Regions from separate parts of the Homo sapiens genome. Here region 2 is linked to region 1. The links come from fine-mapping of genetic effects on gene expression. A gene starts in region 1. The other region holds a variant in brackets. All regions are shown on one strand. Distances are from middle to middle. Region 1 holds the start of PRELID2 (PRELI domain containing 2). Region 2 overlaps GRXCR2 (glutaredoxin and cysteine rich domain containing 2).

Region 1 (10,512 bases):
CCCTTTATGAGCTTAAGAGTAAACATTCAAACCATTTTGTTCAGCACACCAGGCTCCCAGCCAAAATAAATAACACCCAGGGTCATTCTGTCAAAGCAAAGAAATTATCAATATTTTAATCTGTCCATTTTATTACAGTATCCAAAGTAAGGACATGTTTCTGAATCCCATACTGACTTCAATCTAAAATTGCACAGGGCTAATCCCCAAAAGAGTCAGTTCATTCATTCATTCAGCAAGGATTTGCTGAGTACCTACTATGTTCCAGGATCTCTTTGGGTAATTGGGATACATCAGAAACAAATGACAAAAATCACCACCTATGAAGGTGATATTCTATTCACTATGACTCCTTTGACCACAGCATAAAAAGAAAGTCAACCTTCTGAAGGTAAGAAAAATCTTTACTTCTCTGGCCTCATTTAGATATAAACAAGAAAATCCAGTCAATATAATAGCTCTCTGGATCCTTTTTAATGAGTTTAAATTTCAGGCAGATGAAATTTAAGAAGTTCTCTGAATCCAGCTCATGAAAGGCAAGCCCATTAAAAAGGTCTAAGTGAGATTCCAGAGAAGACCCACTTTCTACACTGCTACATTCATCTATGCAACTTTGTGTTCTCTTTGTAGATGATTTTAAGTAAAAGGAAGGAAACAGTGGTAAGTGATAAGAGCTAGAAAGCTAAGAATCACACAAAGAAAGAAACCAAAATACACTGTCAAGTGCATTGACACTATAGTTCTTGGAAAGTACATACAGTTCAGCATCCAATGAATAAACTATTTTGGGTTTCATAACATTCCTCCATGAAGAGTTTATTGAGAAATATTGTATTTTAGGAACAAAGAGTATCATATTGTTTGTTTTCACAGTGTCACTTAGCTTTGAAAGCATGCAGCTAATATTTTGCCTGTGGTATTCAACAGGCAGATGTAAGAAGAGCAAACATTCTTCAGGTTTTAAAAACCGTAGTATATTATAACTTGGAAGGCAACTCCTAACAAACCAAAAGCCATAGATCAGTAGATCTGATTTAAAATAGAACTTCCTCAGTGCTAAAGCAGCTTCAAACATACCATTGTGCAAAATCAGATTAAATGCTTCCCAGTGATCCTCATATGATTGTCGCTTCTGCCAAGTGCTTTCCTTTGAAAAAAAAATCATAAAGACTGAAAGAAAAATAAAAGTGTATTTTGCCAAAAAGATAATTCTTACTACCTTAGGCTTATAAAAAAGCTTATGCTTTTCAAACTGTTAACACATGTGACATCCTCACAACAACCCTGGAAGGTAGGTGGGGTAGGTGGCATTACCATTTTCACAGAGGAGAAACTAGGGCTTACACAGTTGTGATGCTGCTGACTGCACAAGGGCTCCTGGTCAAGTGGGCCTGTGGGCACAGGACTGCATCCACCTAAAGGAAGGAGTAACTTTTTCTAATTTGCATAAATAGTCTCATTTGCTTTCCCCTAGCCCTATGAACTGTGAGCTTATGGAGTGGACCCCTAAAAGATGCCTTTTCTAATTTGCACAAGGACACAGTATAGGATGGTGAAAATTGTTTCCCATGGCCACCCAACCTAACAGTGAAAGCATAATGATCAAGATCCAGGTCTACTGACTACCAGTTCATGGCTTTGAATAACATAAGGGGAAAATTCACCCAGCAAATGGGTTTACTGACATCTTAGAAATAGTCACATAGTTCCTCCCAAGGAATCTCTGAAGGATTCCTTTATGAATGAATAGAAAGAAAGGAAGTACAGTGACATGCATGATGTTAACACTGTCCCATCACTAGACCTTTAGTCTCCAAATGTTTGTCTCTCATTTCCCCAGTTCTGCCTTCCATTTCCCAGTTCTGACATCCCCAGTTCTGTTTCCCAGTTCTGCCCTTCCCAGTTCTGCCTTTTCATAGTACTTATTCACTATGTACCAGGTACTTTGCTAAATATTTTATAAGAATTACAACAGGTTCTAACTGAATACAGCTACATAAGTGACCTCAGCTATACCACACAGCACACAAAAATCAACCACATGAGTTTAGTCAACTCACAGAATTGTGAAAATTAAAAGCCTGTCATTGGTTTAAGTCGCTACGTTTTGGAGTGGTTTGTTACATACCAATAGATAACTTAAACATTCTGTGTTCTCACCCTAACACACATCAAAGTTATATCTTTATATCAGGGTCAACAGGTCCACTTAGCTGAGCAAACCCTGAGAGAAGACTGTGAACAAAAGAAAACACATTGAGCACAGCCAAGTTTTTTGGGTTTTTTTGTTTGTTTTTGTTTTTGAGATGAAGTCTTGCTCTGTCACCCAGGCTGGAGTGCAATGGCATGATCTCAGCTCACTGCAACCTCCATCTCTTGGGTTCAAGTGATTCTCATCTTAGCCTCCCGAGTAGCTGGGATTACAGGCATAGGGCACCACACCTGGCTAATTTTTTGTATTTTTGGTAGAGATGGTATTTCACCATGTTAGCCAGGCTGGTCTTGAACTCCTGACCTCAAGTGATCCGCCCGCCTCGGCCTCCCAAAGTGCTGGGATTACAGGAGTGAGCTGCCGTGCCCAGCCGGCAAAGTTGATTCTGAAACCCTGTATTACCTCAATAATCGTTGAAGTGCCTATTATATGCAATGCAGCACAGCCGGGTGGCTAAGGCTGTGAGTTTCGGATCCATGTGTTAAAATCCTGGCTGTCCTACCTGCTAGCTGTGGGAACTTGAGGAAGGCACTTGGACTTCTCTGGTCCTCAGTTTCTCTATATTGTAAAATGGAAATTAATCATAACTACTTCCTGAGGGTGCTGGCAGCAGTAAACATGATAAAGTATGGAAAGCACACATGAGCGCACATACACACACCACACCACACCACACACACCACACCACACACCACACACCCAGCCTTCCTAGGAAACTTCTATTCATGCTTCAGCCATCATTTCACCAGTGCCACTTCTTCAGGAAAGCCTTTCCTAAAGATCACCCTCTCTGACTTCAGCAGGCCTCCCTGCTATATTCAAGCACCATGTATTTTCCTTTCATAAGTACACATCATCAATTTGAATTTTGTGTTCATTTGCGCATCATTTATTTATGTTAATCTCCCCACTACACACCATCAGTTCCATGAGAACAGGGTCTGCGGTGACCTCCCACATTTTTCTAGCACTTAACACAAAGCTTGGCACACAGAAGATAAGTATTCAACAAAAGAAAAGCATTTACCAAAAGCTGACAATGCGCCAGGACCTCCGTAAATAAGAGTTTGGCATTGTGTTATGTGCTTCTGCAGGAGTGAGTCTCACCTTTAAAAACCTTAGAGTCTAACGGGAAACACAACACATACAGAAGTCACCATCTGACACTGCAGACGGTCAGCAACGCCTAGACAGAGTGCCCTGTGAGTTCTGAGAAGGTGGAGATCAACTGACTCTTGATGATGACAATCCAAAAAGACTTTACAAAGGAGCAGTGGCTTAAGGGTACCCAGACTCCAAAGTGCCAGTTCTAACAAAAAAATTGGGTGTTGGCTGTTACTTTTTGGGCCCAGAAGCCTGGCCTAAGGCAAAGTCTACAACAGGTCTGTAAATCATTCTTTCATTCATTTATTCATTGCTCAGGTTTTTATTAAATACCTAGTAGGTGCTAGGCACTAGTCTAGATACTGAAAATCAACGAACATATCAGCAAGCTGACATTCCTTCTAAAGAGGCCCCCTATAGCAACAAAGTGTTAACCAGTGTCCTCCTCACTCCTCTGTGACCAGGGCCACCGTGTCACCTCCTCTAACGGAGGCTACACCTTATCGTTTAACAAATGACCTTCATCTTCCCAGCATCTCCCTTAGTTTGGCTTCCGGGTTGCATATGGAGTTCAATGTCCCGTGGCTGCTAACCAAGGCAAATTGCAACTGTTGCAAATTTTGCTTATGAAAACCGAAGGGGACCTTCAAAGATCATCTGGTACAACCCCTTCATCTTATAGATGTGGAAACTAAGGCCTAGAGAAAAGACCCTCAGCCAAGGTCACCCAGAGAACTAACCACGCATAGAACCAGATCAGAGTCCAGGAGTCCTGCCTCCCAGGCCTGGGCGCTTTCGATTTTTCAAAGACATTTCCCATTTTCCTATTATCAGGACCCACAATCCTAGAAACAGTCTTTGGGATTCAGGGCTCCTCAGTATTGAGGAAGAGTTCATTATCTGTATTGAAATCGGTTGTAGTAATACAAACAACAATAACATTTTAGAGCCCTAACTAAACATCAGTAGCAGTGAGAAAAAGAAAAATAGCTCAGAGCAGATTGTGTGAGTTACAGTGAAATATGCAAAATCAATCAAGCCCAGAGAGACAAGAGTATAGGACTTTAGTGGTCCCCTCCTCACCCAACCCATTCCTGGGAGCAACTGGTTAAAGGCATTTTGTTCCTGACCAGCTGCCTTACCCATTATCTTCAAGTTCCTGGAATTTGTGATACAAAGAACAATGTACAGACAATCAATAGTTTATGTTATTTTAATATAAATTCTTGGTAAACAACTTAGGAAGTGCTTCTTATTCTCCTTTAAAAACCCACTTTCGACTTCTGCTCATCAGAATGTATACTCAGGGCACCTTCACTCCCAGGATGCAGCCCTCAAACTTGGCTCGAATGAACTCTCTTTTTATATTGATTTTGCCTCAGTTTCTTCATTTAGGTCACAACTGTGCTAAGCACTTTACACAAGTTACCTCATTTGGATCCTCACAACAACTCTATGAGTCGGTACTATTATTTTCCCCATTTTACAGATTAGCAAACTAAGGCACAAAGAGAGTAAGCAACCTGCACGATGTCCCACAGCTGTTTAATAAGGAGCAGCGGATGGGGCAGCAGAACCATCATGCTGAGTAAACCAGGATGACTGCCCAATGGCCTCCCCTCGCTTTTAAGGGGTCAGTGATGAACCGGAAAGCTCCACACGTCGGTCATCTGCAACTCCACGGAGCTCACGAGCTGGGATTCCCGGAGGCTCTTCCTAAAAGGAAAGCCTCTTCTTTCAGCTGGGGCAGGTGTGAACGTGATGCCAAGCACGGCCCCTTTTCCCGCTCCCTGTAAAGGGAGTCTTCGAGGAAATCCCTCTCGACCCACACATCCCTGAAGCAAAGCCCGCAGCTGGAAAGAGACACTGGCGGTGCCAGCTTCCGCGTGGATGAAGGAGAGGAGAGAGGGGCAAGCAGCGGAGGCAGCGCGGGATACGGAAGGTGGAAGCGGGGCGGTACCTTTCGGAGAAAGCTGGCGACCACCTGCTCGAAGGGGTACTTGTACACCTGGTGCACATCCACCGAGACCCCCATCCCCGCGCGCCGCGGGCCCCGCGCACCGGCCACGCCTCCGCGAGCTCAGAGCTGCCCAGGGCTCCGCAGAGGCCCGGAGGCGCCCACACTCGGACAGCCACATGGGCGTGGCCTTTTTCCTCCGCTTTTCAAACTTTCGAAACTTTATTGGCCACTCGGAGAAACGCGCAGTCGGCCACGCCCACGCCCCTACTGCCAGAGTCCGGGGCCTGGGGTTACAGAGCGCGGGAGGCGCTGGAGCGCTCCCAGAGCACCCGGGGCCCCGCGGTCTCCACGCTGGCGGCGCCAGAGCGGCCCTGGTGCCCTCCCGCGGCCGCGCCTGCCGAGAAAAGCTTCTCTGCCTGGGAGCCATCACGCCCCGCCCCAGGAAACCTGGACCTTGGGCTTATGCGTTTATGGTATCACCGCCTGGAGTCACAGAATAAGCCGTGGTTGGCAGCACGGGAAAAAAGTATTAATAAGGAAGGCCTGGTGTGACAAAGGCCAGCATTACTCATGCCACCAGGCAGCTGCCTCTGAGGCTTGGGTTTGGGCCTCGTGTAAGGTAAAGATTGCCTCGGGAATAAGAACCGCGTTTTAGTGCACCAAAACCTGCAGGTAAGTTCCTTTGCTCGCTAAGGTTAAACACCACGGAGCAAGGAACTAGAGGATACAAAAGAGTTGCGAGTATTATTATTTACTGCAACCAACAGATGTTAGGAGAACCAGCACGTTAATCCGTGTATTCAGCACGGTTCTGAGGCCTCCTATGCCCCAGCGCTGTAGTGGGCACTGCGGATTCCGCAGGGAGGAAACACCAGCTCTGCTGATGAGCCGGCTGATTTCACACCCAATCAACAAGCTGGGAAAATAAAAACAATAATCGGTTAAAGTGACACGGGCGCGGACATGATTTTAGTGAGGGTGATTATGGAGGGTCTCTGAGGTGATGACTTTTACGATTTTGCCATCTCGCTCGCCCCTGCCATACGCAGTCACACTGGTCTGGCAAAACCCTAGCCTTGTGTAAATCTAGGTCTCCTCTGACTGTCTCTACCCAAGCCACCAGAAGGGGCTGAAGGAAAATACACACCCACTGTGCATCTTTTAAGTTCATAACCACTAACCCTATGGCGCCTTTTAATGGTGCCAGACAAATACACTATGAAAGTACTGTATTTCTGGCTGGGTGCGGTGACTCACGCCTGTAATCCCAGCACTTTGGGAGGCCAAGGTGGGCGGATCGCCTGAGGTCCGGAGTTCCAGACCAGCCTGGCCAACATGGTGAAACCCTGTCCCTACTAAAAATACAAAAATTAGCCAGGCGTGATGGCGGGCGCCTGTAGTCCCAGCTACTCCGGAGGCTGAGGCAGGAGAATCGCTTGAACCCGGGAGACGGAGGTTGCAGTGAGCAGAGCTCGCCCATTGCACTCCAGCCTAGGCGACAAGAGCAAGACTCCATCTCAAAAAAAAAAAAAAAAGAGAGTACTGAATTTCTCTAATCCACTTACTCTCCCGCATTCCTCCACACCTCTGACACCTTTGTTCCCAGCCTTATACTCCAGTCATTACCTTACTTCCATTTTCACTTAGTCAATAGGTCACATCGCTCTGCCACCTCTCTACCCACCAGACCAAATGCCTTGCCTTCACTCTTGTTCCTGTGGGTGAACTGTCAGCACTTTGTTTTAGCACCAGTGTCTCCATTTGTCCACTGAATCCTGAGGTGAACTGAAAAATGTTTAACAAATAGCTGTCCTTTAAAGTATAAATCAAGCAAGGCCCTGATTTCCAAAGGTTGCTGATTCCTGTGGTGTAAATACTCCTACCATGTTTAAAGATGCCAACTCGATGTCACTAAACACAAGTTGGGGATTTAGCAACATGGAGTTGAGTGAGGAGTGGGAGTTGGGGAGGGAAGCACAGAAGCACACCATCACATAGTATTTCCACCACCCACATACGACAGCCATAAAGAACCAAAAACATAAATAATGGAAAATGTAGCAGGAAGGGATGAGTTTTCAATGTTTATTACTCTTTGGCCAGGCTCCTATGGTTCATGCCTGTAACCTCAGCACTTTGGGAGGCCAAGGCAGAAGGATCACTTGAGGCCAAGAGTTTGAGGCCAGTGTAGGCAACATAGTGAAACCCCATCTCTACAAAAAATAAAATAAAAAATTAGCCAGGTGTGGCAGTGCACACCTGTAGTCCTAGCTACTTGAGAGGCTAAGGCCAGAGGCTCTATTAAATCCGGAAGTTCAAGGCTGTAGTGAACTATGATCGTGCCATGCACTCCAGCCTGGGCCACAGAGTGAGACCCATCTCAAATAAATAAATATTTATTAATTTTTATATGTGATTGTAAATTTATATACTTTAATAATAGCTGTGTTGAATGGCCAGCTCTAGTACATCACTAAAAGTTCCTGTCCTCTTTCTTGTTCAAGGCCATCTCTCTAGCAATATCCCCCTTCCTTTCTGTATCATCAGCTTTTGTCTCTACTGGGCCATTCCAGCCAGCACAACAAGTACACTGTAATTTCTTCCATCTAAAAACAAAAACAGAAACAATACAAAAAAAACAACTCTTAACCCCCTATCTTCCTCCAGCTGTATTCCGAGTCTCTGGTCCACTGATGCTCCTCAAAAGAGCTGCCTGTAATCTCTTGAGCCCATTCCAATCAGTATTTGCCCCCACCACTTCACCGAAACGACTGTTGTCAAGGTCACCAATGACCAAATTGCTAAATCCAATAATTAATTCTTAATCCCCACCTTACTAAGCCTGTAAGCAGCATTTCCTTGAAATACAGAGGGAGGAGTGGAGAGGAGAATGAGATGCAAATGCTCTTACATGTGTTGGATGCATGTTTAAAAGCCACTCCACTATATCACCAATCCCTCCTTACAGGAAAACAAAAAGCAGTCTTCCAGGGAGACTACACAGGTCCACAAAGGAGAGATCAATTACCTGCAGAGTTTATGGTATTTTGTATCTGCCTCTTTTACCAGAGTAGCTGGAGACCAGATGTGACATACAAACCCCCTGCTAGCGTAGGTCCTGGGCCCTGTATCCTCAATCCACTCTGACCATCAGTTTCTCCCAGAGTGTATCTTTAAGCAGGACTTAATCTCCGGATTAAGTAACCATGAAAGGCCAATGGTGTGTCCTGAAAGATTAAAGGCCCCACCACCTGCAACCTCTACTTGGGGCTGGTTGGCTGAGTGACTTGTGTAAGAACAAATGTGACCTGCCCATTCCAAGGACGTTGGGGCTTTCTGAAACGTGTGCCAGACTTGACAACATGAGCCTATTATCTTGTAGCTCTGAATCACAGCCAGTTTGCACAACAGTAATCTTACTTGCTGGGTCCTCTGAGGGAGCGAGAAGAAACTGTGAAACAAATTTCCATCGCTTTGAAATTGGTTGGCTTAACTGGGCAGGGACTTGAGGGTGGAAATTTGCTGGCAAACCTTAGAAGTTCATGACCTTATTTGGTCTTTAAGATACCAAATATCTTACTAAAGAACTTTCATAAGATATCAAATACCTTTTGTATCTTCACAGGGAGGCACAATAGTTTAAACATGGTAGACATCCAATACATTTAGGTTGAATGAATGAATGAATGAATGATTGTAAATGCTGCAAGATTTAAGTGACACAGAACTCCAGCCCTGACCCTGTCTCTCTGCTTTTCTCACCTTCTTCATGTTGGTTCAATTCCCTCTTCTGACCATCCTGACCATCTCTCTATCACTGATTTTTTGTATCCAGTCTTATAATTATCTGTATATATAAATCACTGTTACTGTGACATTCTCAAGACTGGAGGAACTGCATATATTATTCACTCCTCTCTATCCAGTGCCTAGTAAAATGCTTGGCACCTAGTATATGTTGAATAAACTCACGAATGTACTTAATATAAAATATGACCTTGAACAAAATCCTTCCTGCCCCTGCAGCTCAGTTTTTCCGTCAACAAAAACTGAAATGCAGGGGCAGAAACTGAGTGGGCCAAGACTGTCTCTAAAATCCAGCAACCTGACATTTGAGATGTGAGCTAGAGACACAAGCCAAGGCAGGGAACAGGGATATAGTTATTGAAACCAGGGTACAGAATGAGAATTTGCAAGGAAAACAAAGCAAAGTATCAGAATAGATTCAAATATGTAAAATATCATGTATGATAAGTAAGCGTGGGTACTAAGGAGACAAAAACTGGAGAAGAAGGATGAGAAGTGATGGCAGGGCAGGGGAGAGAGGAGCAGTGTTAAAATTTTTTAAAAGAGCTAAGGAAGACCTCTCTGAGAAAATGACATTAAAGTAGAAAAGTTGCAAGAAGAGGAGGGCAAGTCATGCTCGTATTTGGAGGAGGATCATTCCACGTAGAAGGAATGGCAGGTTCCAAGACCTGAAACAGGCATTCTCCTGATACATTTCAGAGCTACAAGGAGGCCAGTATGGCTGTTGCAGAGTTCCTGAGATATAAGGTCAGAAAACATGAATCTAGGTCACATAGGGTCCTCCAGGCCATGGTAAAGATGTTGGCTTTATCTGTATGAGATGGGAGGCCATTGAGAGTTTTGAGCAGAGGAGAGACATGATCTCAACTGTATATTTTAACAGAATCATTCTGGCTACTTACAGTTTGGAGAAGTGACTATGGGGAGGCAAAGCAAAGAAAGAGACCAATTAAGAGGTATGATATTTTACATATATATATGTAAAATTTCCTCCCCAACTCCCACTCCTCACTAAACTCCACTCCTCCACGTATAAATATAGATTCATGGTTCCTGGCTGATAACTCCCATAGCCCTTGCTACAGTCTTTTGCTATAGTATTGGGACACTTTAGGCCTCAGAAGCAGGCTTTTCTCTCTCCGACCTTCTTCTGACTTCCCTTCACCTGCCCAAGGCAGGACTCTAATCTTTCCTGGCTTTTCTGATTGATTTCTCATTCCAGAGAGTGTCCCACCCCATACCCTGCAGGAAGAAATGCTGCACAGGAAGGCCAAGAAGAATCTAGACAGGCGGGCCTTACTAGGTTTCCTGACTCAGTCTGTTAGTATTATATCATATCCTTTTTTGCCTAATCGTATTTCTACCTGGTTATCTTCAATCATGTCTATCCAATGGAGTCTTGCTAAGAGACCCAAAAGAACAGGGTTCA
Region 2 (10,512 bases), 22 kb after region 1:
AGGTGGTTTAGGTTAGAATCACCTTGGGAGAAGCAACAAATGTAACCAAGAATTAATCAGTCAATAAACCAAGTCTTGCAATCTAGGCTGTTCTGATAAGATAATCTTTTCTTTGGGCCTTCTAACAATCGTGTGACCCCAGAAAGAAATAAAAATAACAGTACTGAAATCCTGAGGGTATATCAAAACAAGCATAGAAAAACAAGCACAGAAATAAGAAAAGCATCAAACCCACGATATTGATGCCCTAAAGTAGATTTCTGTGAAACTATAGCAATATATTCTGTAGTCTTTGTTTCTATAAGTTTGTGAATTACGGTTTTGAAGTGTTTAAAAGGGTTAGACATTCCAAATATATAATTGCAGTTTGTTTAAATTGTTTACAGTGGTTTGCTTAATAAATTTGTGATCAGTATTTAAAGGCCCCAAGAAAAATTGGTTGTTAGTTTTTGGTGTTAGATTTATGAGCTTAATAAATTGAGCATTAAACAAAGAACAAATGGTTGCTAGTATTCTTCTCCATGAGAAAAACCTTCAGATATATAAGGCTACATCAACAAAGACCTGGACAGAAGATGGTCTTACCTTGTACTGGTTATCTTTTCTTATGTAATAAATCATCCCAAAATTTATTGGCTCAAAACAGCATATATTATCTCACAGTTTTGTATCCCACAGGTCAGAGATTTGGGCACAGCTTAGCTGAATGGTTCTGACTCTAGGTCTCTGATGGGCTGCAATTAAGTTGTCAGCTGGGGTTGCAGTCATCTCAAGCTCAACTGGGAAAGACCCTGTTCCAAGCTCACTCACGTGGCTGTTGGCAGGATTCCCTTCCCAGCAGGCAGCTGACTGAGGGCCTCAGTTCCTTGCTGGCTGTTGGTTGGAAGCCACCTTCTGCTCCTTGCCACGTGGACCTCTCCATAAGGCACCTTGCAACATGGCAGTTGGCCTCAACAGGTGAGCAAGCAAAAAGCCAGAGAAAGAGTCATGATCTTTGACAACCTCATCTTTGAAGTGACATCGCATCACTTTTGCCATAGCCTATTGTTAAAAGTAAGTCACTTGGTCCAGTCCACACTCAAGGGGAAGGGATTACACAGGCCAGGAATACCAGGAGGTGGGGATCATTGGGAGGCATTTTAGAAGCTGCCCACTGGTGAAATTTTCACAAGGCATTGGCCCATGAGACAACAATACACTGAGGGCTCTGTATGTGCAATTAAGGGTCATGTCTCTGCAAACACCAAACCACCACATATTTATAGAACACCTTCTATGCACCAAGCACAGTGTAGATGCTGGGGATACAATGATGCATGGCCACAGTTCCTGCCCTCAAGAAGCTCAAAGCTGAATGAGGGAGACCAACAATGAAAGGAGAGTTAACCAATCTTTATCCTCTTCCCCTCCTATGGCATGTATTATTTTATTTTGCAAATGTTCGTTTAATTCTCTAACTCCCTGTGAGACCATGATGTCCTTGAGAGAAGATACTATGTCTCTTTCATCTGTGTGACTGCTTGTGACTTACACATGGCCTGACACATAGGAGGCCTTCAAAAATTATAACACTTTGAACCTAAGAAAGCAGACATGGTCAATTATCTATTAGTCATCTATACCTTAGTGTGAATTAATGGCCCTAATCTTCTGGGAAATAATCACTGATGGAGGAAAATGTGTCTGGGAGCTGGATAATAGGGATGCTAAGGGGACTATACACAGAGGAAACTCATAGTGTAAAAGGAGATAAACATAGATTTTCATTTTGTCAAGGTCTGATTTAACTGCCCCTTTCCTCCCTCCTTTCCCCAACTCTCAAGCAATAAGGAAGTTCTACTGTATTATGTTTCTAGGTCTTTTCTTCTCTTGGTTTTATGTGTTCTTTAACACACGCAGTAATTATATGCCATAATTCTGACACTGACATAACTCCATTTCTCTCTCACATAATTGCATGAATGTGACTCTCTATAATTACTGTGTTTAATTAGAAAATGAGGACATGCGACTAATGAGGACAGGTGATTAAAAAACAACTGCGAACATCTCTTTCAAATTTACCTTTAGCATAAAATTCACTCCACTTTAGCATAAAATTTAGCATAAGCTCTAGTGAACCACAGAATTTTTTTTATAAATGTTGCCAGCACTCATCTAAATGAATATATTACCAGAGCAATTTATATTTGTGGAAGAGTTAGACTAGGAAAATATCATCTTACCTATGAACTGAAGCTTAAATGATGTCTTTGGCCAGTTAAATTTGGAAAAGTAAAGTATGGATCACAAAGTAAATAGTTAACTCTGTTTTCAAAAATTTTAAATGTACTGTGCTCTCTTTAGCAGGGATCTTACCTGGAAACCAACATGAAAACAAGGAAGAAAAGGTAGAGTTGCTATAGGGGCAAAGGTTTAAGGCCTGTGGACTCTGCCCTTCCCGCTGCACAGAGCCCCTTAGACAGGTAGGGAGGGGAACATATTGCCATTTCAAACCACAAGTGTCCTTCAAGGAGGGTGGAGTCTGTGAAAAAGAAGCTTCCTGGTCTCTGCAGATCTTTGTGTGTGAAGAGTAGATAAGCCTTGAGGCTGAGCCACAGTTGGAAATAGGAGCCATAAAGATGAGTCACTCTGGCAACAGAGTAAGAAGAATAAGGGTCAGCTGGGATGGGAAGGCAGAGAGGGAAGGAGGAACCAGCAGAAGGGTGCTAAGTGGCTGGCACAGTCTGCAGAAGTCTTGTGAAGTCCTCTCATTACTATGATGCAGTGTCAGTCCCCTGGGTAGATCCCCAGTTTCAGTACAGTTTGTTGCACCCACAAAGGCCTAGTAAGGCAAGATGTTTGTGAGGATCACAGAAAGGGCCTGTGTATTTACTCTGGGTGAGCACGGCATGGAAAGGAACAGTATGAGTGAGACTAAGAGATGGTCAATAAACTGAATTAACTCAACTTTAAGACAATTTAGGAGCTGATTAAGTGTGAACTGCTTAGAGCAATGCCTTACGTGCAGTTAAGGCTAATATGTGCTTGTTAATTTAAATAAATGCATACATAACATTCTTTAACAAACACAGCCCCCAAACCAGGCCGATCTAACTTGACCTCAAGCAGACAAATGAAAGTTACTAGAGTAAGTAGCAAAGGGTAGCTATAGTGTCCTCCCCAAACTGTGGGCCGAAATTCAGTTACTATGTGAACTAGAGGCCCAAGACTGTAATTTCATTAACGATAAATACTAAATCCTTTTTCATCTTTGTCTTCTGAGGACCTAGTACGAATGTCCAGAACATAGCAGAAATCTAACAAAAAATTATTCAATGAATAAATGAATGGATGTTACATTTTTAAGACGTATTTATTAAAAACTTTTTTGAGCTTTCTAAGGATATAGTATTATTTTAATCACAGCATCATTATGATGATATTTTTTAACCTTCGTGTTTGTTTCTAGCTCTGAAGGGATTCTTGTAGTCTTAGTGGAGTACCAGTTGGTTAACCTTGTTTAAACTTATTCCTAACCCTGCCCAACCCACTGGCAAATACTTATAGTTCACAAATCAGGAAGTGGATGTTTTGGTGCAAACTTGTCTCCAGTAATAGGCAAAGAACTCAAGTATGTATGTTTTGCATACGAGGGGTCATAGCAATATTCCTGAGTTCAAAGGACGGTAAATAGAGCTTGTGGTTCTAGCTTCACAATATATCCATTGTCTGACCACTTTTTACCACATCCACTGATACCACACTGGCACTATTAGCTGCCACCAAGATTATTGCAATAGTCTCCTAGCTGGCCTCCCATTTCTGCCCTTGCCAGTGGTGTCTCCTCTCAACACAGCAGCCCGAGTGGCCTGTTAAAACATAAATCATCAGACCATGACCCTCCTCTGCTCCAGTCGGTGCCCAATCAAGAAAACAGAAACCATTCCAGGTATTTCCAAGAGAGGAAATATAGGGAATTGGTTACAAAGATTAGTGACTGCAGGTAGCCACTACCACCCCTAGGAAGGAGGAACAAAAGGGAAAATGGTGTTTCAGCGAGCCCACAACCAGAGCCAGTAAAGCAGCTACTGGTGGAAGCAAGCAGCCGGCCAGCATTCCTAGCTGCTGCTGCTGCTCCTGCAGCTGCCCTATGGGAAGGC[C/T]GCCGGGAACCCGATTCAAAAAAAGGAAGGCTCTTCCTCCCTCTCCTCTCCCAGTGTCCTGGCGCACCTAACAGGAAGCCAGCGGGCACGGGGGGTCCGGAAAGTGTAGTTTGCACGTCTCCTGCCCCAGCAGCAAGGGGGCGGGGGGTTGAAAGGGAGTGCGGAGGGCGGTAGCAGAAAGCAGGCTCTATCCACAGCAGGCCCTCACTCAGAGTAAAACCCGAGTTCTCATCGTGGCATCTGAGGGAGGCGCCCCCGCCGTGACACACAAGAACGAACTTTCCCTTCAGACGTCATCCCCGCTGCTGTCTTCATGCTCACCCAGACCAGCCACGCGGGCTCCTTCCCTGTTCTTCAAAGGTGCAGGCGCTCTTCTTCCCGACTCTAGCATTTGCTGTTTCCTCTGCCTGGGATAGTCTTACGCCAGACACCTTCCCAGCTCACTCCCTCAACTCCTTTAGGCCTTTCTTTAAATGACACCTTTTCTTATTTCTTATTTTTATTTTTAATTTATATTCCTAGACATCAGTCTCAAGCTGATAAATGGCACCTTGTCAAGGAGCCTCCCTGCAAGCTAATTTAAAAATTGCAACCTATTTTTTTTTTTTTACACGGAGTTTCGTTTTTGTTGCCCAGGCTGGAGTGCAGTGGCACAATCTTGGCTCACTGCAACCTCCACCTCCCGGGTTCAAGCGATTCTCCTGCCTCAGCCTCCCAAGTAGCTGGTATTGCAGGCATGTGCCACCACGTCTGGCTAATTTTTTGTATTTAGTAGAGAGGGGGGGTTTCACCATGCTGGTCAGGCTGGTCTTGATCTCCCGACCTTAGGTGATCCACCCGCCTCAGCCTCCCAAAGTGCTGGGATTACGGTGCGAGCCACCGCGCCCAGCCTTTTGTCCTTTTTAACACCACTATACGTTACATATATGTGTGTGTATATATGTAATGTATGTGTTATATATATAGCTTACTATATATAATTGTATATATTTTGTTCTATAGGCTATACTTATTGCATAAACATATATATTATTCCCATAAATCTATATATTTAGTTGTCTGTATTCCTTCACCAAAATTTAAGCTCGTAGGAGCATTTAGTTTGTTTTGTCTACTGATACATCCTCGGTGCTCCATAAATACTTGTAGATAGTCAACAATAACATACTGTACACTTAAAAGTTCATTAAGAGGGTAGTTCTCATGTTAAGTGTTCCTACCACAATAATAAATGAATACTTGTGAAATGAACACAATAAATATGATCATTAGTAGGTTATTTATTATGTGATGAAAAACATTAAAGGCTCTTTACAGAAGCTGAGGTTGCTCACACTTCTTCCTCTGGGCAACCTGCATAACCCCACTAAGGCTTAAATTAGATGCCCCTTCTGCATGCTCCAAATGCTCCCTGTAATTATCCTATCCCAGCACTTGTCACAGTGCATTGCAATTATCCATTTATGTATCTATCTCCTCCTCTAAAACTAAGTTCCATGAGATACCAAAGGGATGATGCCTCTCTGGGTAACATGATACATCAAGCACTTTGGAATACTGTCCTGTATGCAGCGGGGCTCAAACAATATTTGTGACGGAATATTCCTGTCGAAAAGCAGAATAGAGCCAGGCGCGGTGGCTCATGCCTGTAATCCCAGCACTTTGGGAGGCCGAGATGGGCGGATCACCTGAGGTCAGGAGTTGGAGACCAGCCTGGCCAACATGACGAAACCCCGTCTCTACTAAAAATACAAAAATTAGCTGGGAGTGGTGGCATGTGCCTGTGATCCCAGCTACTCAGGAGGCGGAGGCAGGAGAATCGCTGGAAGCCGGGAGGCAGAGGTTGCAATGAACAAAGATTGCACCACTGCACTCCAGCCTGAGCAACAGAGCGGACTCTGTCTCCCACAAAAAAAAAAAAAAAAAGCAGAATACACTCTCAACATCCCTCCTTCCTCTAGTATTCTGAAAAGTCAGAAGAGCCAACAGCTGTGAGAAAACATAAACAGAGGCAGGAGGTATAACAGTTAAGGACAGAAGCAAAGAAAGCTGGTGAGCAATATGGTAACTCCTGAGTATGAAAGGACAGGCAAAACTATCAAGGCTTCAAAAATATTTTAGTCTTTTTTATTAGAATTATTTATATTGCCTGAAAAGCATTCCATTGTTAAATTATGTTAAACGCTGAATATTAGAGAATAACAAACAAATCTTGAGAAATTATTAAGTTATGAAATCAAAATTATTATCACAGAATGCAGCAGGTCTCAAGAGATAAATTTTGCAGTGTTATTCTTAAGGGGCTTGGGGAGTGGGTGTTAGAGCTATAAAAGTTCATTAACAAAAGTATGTTCTAATTTTATAACCAACCTCAAGAGGAAAGAATCATCCTTACTATGCATATTCATGGATAGTAGAAACATTACTGCTAAAAATCAGCCTTGGTTAATTTTTTTCTTTTAGAGATTTCCAGTAGGTAATCTATAAAATACCTGCAGTCCTTTATGAAGAGATCATGGCTAGGTTCTAGACTTAAAGTGGATTTATTTATTTGGTAGTAATTCAGGGGCTCGAAGAAGTTATATCATACACACATATTTGAGCACCAAATTTATCATAAATAACTTTGACTTGGCTTATAACCTCAGTAGTTAGAGGCACACAAAAATGTCTTATCTCATCTTGACTTAAGAAATAGTATTGCTCACTGTCTGCATAAATATTATCCAAACACACCACATGGAAGAGGTTCAGGACTTTGAAAGGGAAGGCTCCTTGGCTTGCCTGTCTCCACAGTGAACATCCCATTTTGCTTGCTGTGGCCTGCTAGTGCGTTCAGCGTTGGCTGTCCGTTTCCTCTTCTGCTTAATCAGAAATTCAGTTTGACTAATAATCACATGAGATGCATTATAAGCAACAAGAAATCAGTTCATCAGAAACCTGCCTTTTTTACTCCTTTCTCACCACATAATTTTGCAAAATAACTCCCAACCTGATGCCTGAAGTGTACATGTATTTGCTCACTGAAGCAAGAAGAAAACTGAGCTAAGTCAAGTGAGATACACTCACACCATCCTGGAAGGATAATTTTAGAACCAGTTTCAAAGCAGACTATAATTCAGAAATGCCCCTGCCACTTAGACCCACAGAGAGATGTTACCGGCCTCACAAAATGTCATCAGATAATTGAGTTTTGCCAGCAGTGGGAGTGACTGCAGCCACTGTGGCCTCCTTGTTGGGAGAGGCAGGAGGAGGAGAAGGGGGCGGTTTATTAGAAATAACTTTAGGGAGGGTAAGATAACAGTGGACATGCAAAAGCCACGGGCTATTGATTGCAAATCTGGCAAGGCTGTAGGCCATTCTCATTGCAGGCAGGGCACCTCAGGGCCCGATAGGACTCCTTAAATCTGTTGGCCAGCATCGAGAACTTGCTGCCGTGGCACAGAGAGCAGGTGGCACTGCCCGACCCTCGGCAGTGAAAACAGCTGTCCTCGGGAATATCCCCTTCCTGCAAGAGACAGGTTAGGGTTTAGTTAAAGCAGCAGTTCAAGTCCGTTGTTCACATGCAGGTCAAAACAGCACTAGACTACAGCAAAGGCTGGGGCAGAATAGAGGAAAATGCTTCCCACGAATGTCAGTGAGAGAATCATCTGGGACCCAGAATAGTTACAGCAATTTTATCAGAGAGGATTCCCCTGGTGGACACCTCTAAGACAGCATCCTGTGCCACCACACTTTGCATTCCAAGACTTCATGATCTTCATTGCCCTTGTCACTATCTCTGACCTGTTTTTTCTGTAAGCTCCATAAAGGGCAAGGACTTTATTTTCCTTATTGCCAAATACTACAAGTGAACCCTTGTAGCATGCCTGATAGGTGCCAGGTGCTGTTCTAAGTGCTTCCTATATATCATCCATCTAATCCTCACAAAATCCCAGTGAGATAGTGTAAGTATTATTATCCTTGTGTTGCAGATGGGAAAATGAGATACTGAGAAGTTGTTTGCCAATGGTCACACACACAGCTTGAAAAAGGAAGAGGTGGGCTCTCATCTCAGCGATTTGAGCACCAGAATTCATGCTCCTAATGCCTATGTGCACAGCCCCTCATTGTAGTTGTCCATAGTAAATGCCCAAGACTGTTCTGTGTGACTGAGAGACTGAGTGGAGAAATGAATGAATCGATAAATGTTACAATCCTTCAAAGCTTAGCTCTGTATGCTTGCAGTACTTATATCTTTATTCTCTTTGAGAGCTAAGGCCCAGTGATTAAGAGCTCTGTACTTTGGAGTTAATAGACTAGGACTGAGGCTATTGTCTGCCATCAGCTGTGCAACTTGAATAGTTCCCTTAGCCTCTCCCAATCTGTTTCTTTATTTATAGAATTGAATAATAATGCTTACCCTTCTGAGTAGCTGGAACATTAAATGAGAGAATATATGTAATGCAATATTATCTGTCAGATCATAGGTGCACCTTCTCCTAAGCCTTGCTAACAAATCTCCAGTTCTTGACTCCCACTCTTCAGAAAATGTTCCTTGGCTATTGTCTTGCTCTCCCCCTTAAAGCTATCTTAAGGAAATTGGTGATCTTGGTACTCCTTATAGACTATGAACCTTCCCAGAAATAAGGGGAGATACTAGATCGAAACCTGCTAAATTCAGTACCAAGTCCTGGCCATTTCAGCTTCTGAAAATCTCAAATCCATCCTGCTTTCTTCATCCCACAACTACAATCCCAGCCCAATTGCCCACTGACTCTGGCATGAACTGAGTGTGGACCCATGCCTCTGGTCTTGTGGTATGTTCTTCCCACTGATGCCAAGCTTATTAAGTTGCCTGCAGTAGTGATTGTCACATAGAAAGCAATCAGGAAACCTTTTTAATGAACACTTGCCCTCCAGATAAAACCTCAGGATAAAACCCAGTCTCCTTAGCCGATTTAAATTTTTTGTCACTTCTTTCATCAGGATCTTGTTCATGGGCCTCTCTGTACTTGGTCTCCAGGGACCTTTCCCCAATCCCAACGCAGCCAACTCCTGCTTGTCCCCAGAAGTCAGCTTAGCAGCTCTTCCTCCAAGAAGGCTTGCCCACCCACAGCTCTGGACCAGGAGTTCCCCCACCCCCATGGCCACCTGTACTGCCCCTCGCATGACAGGTATCCCATACTCCAGTGAAAGTTCCTGTTGATTAGACAGGGAGCTCTCTGGACTTGTACCATTTCATGATCACTTCCCAAACATCTAGTGCAGTGCCTGGCATGCTACTTATGTCAAATGAATAAACAAATGAACAATAATATCTGGAGAACCCTTCCTGTTCTTAAATTCTAGGGACCAACAAGACAGCAGGAGTCCGCTGGGTAGCTCTGCCCAACTCATTCAGCTTTCTTTTATAACCTAAGAATAAAAATAATCCCTGAAAAGGGAGGCATACGTTTTGAAAATAGCTCCATCATGCTGCAAATTGCCTAAGAAGATACTAAATTTTATTTATTCTAGATTTAAGGAATGAAAGTAATTACCCAATTGACAAAAACTCAAATCAGGTCTATGTACCCTTTCGTTAATATTTTATTGATTGCTACCATATTTTAGTATATTAACAATGGAGAATTTGTTTTCTTAAAGTATTCAAAATAATACATATTTGCAAAAATATTCTTAAAGCAAGTTGCCACGATTCATTTCCTGCCAAATCCATTAGGTTTTATGTTTTGTACTTCATCCCAGTGAGATTTTAATAACATAAGTCCACACTGTGAGGGAAAGTACAGTAAAATCCTAACATAATGCTATACATGTGATCCAAAAATTCATTTGCATAAAACGCCAGATCAGATATTGAAAGATTAATGAAATGACCTAGTAAGCCTTCTGTAGAGAATAAGAACACGTCTTCCATCAAATTATATCTAATGTCATATAGTTCTAGGGTGCACTACATTATTAGAAGTTTCACTGGAGTTTCCATTCTTATTCTGGGTTACCACTCTCTGACCACTTACCCTCAACATGCTCTTTTTAATCATTCAACTAATTCAGCAAGTATTTAATAAGCACCACTCTATACAAGGCTTGTATACTATAAGCCTCTTTCTTCCTTTCTCTGTATCTTTTAAAATTATTCTCAGAAAATATTTAGTAGGATATAGAACATAGTTGCACAGCATAGCTTAGGTTCTAGAACCCAACAGACCCACCAATCCACCTCTACTAGCTCCATGACCAAGAAGAGGGGCCTGATCTTTTACTGCAGACTCCAAGGCTTGTAGAGCCCTGAAGATGGTAACCAGTGCCAATTGAGACTGCATAATAGGGTTATTATGGTCAAGAGACTGTTCAACAAATGGACCTAGATTTGACTACTGGC

The links. PIP is the estimated chance that this variant, and not a neighbour inherited with it, causes the effect.
Region 2: its variant is fine-mapped to the expression of PRELID2 in gastroesophageal junction (GTEx, PIP above 0.99).

What each region holds. Positions count from the first base shown.
Region 1 is chr5:145,829,901-145,840,412 of GRCh38, forward strand. It overlaps PRELID2 (PRELI domain containing 2), which reads right to left and starts at 5,442. Exons shown (of 7, transcript NM_205846.3): 1 at 5,277-5,442. The coding sequence starts at 5,351. RefSeq lists a silencer at 5,634-5,753.
Region 2 is chr5:145,852,266-145,862,777 of GRCh38, forward strand. It overlaps GRXCR2 (glutaredoxin and cysteine rich domain containing 2), which reads right to left. Exons shown (of 3, transcript NM_001080516.2): 3 at 6,256-7,650. The coding sequence ends at 7,468. Among named protein-coding and RNA genes, the nearest start is that of GRXCR2, 15 kb to the right of the region's middle. RefSeq lists a cis regulatory region at 2,293-2,892. The variant C/T (reference allele first, on the strand shown) is at 4,143.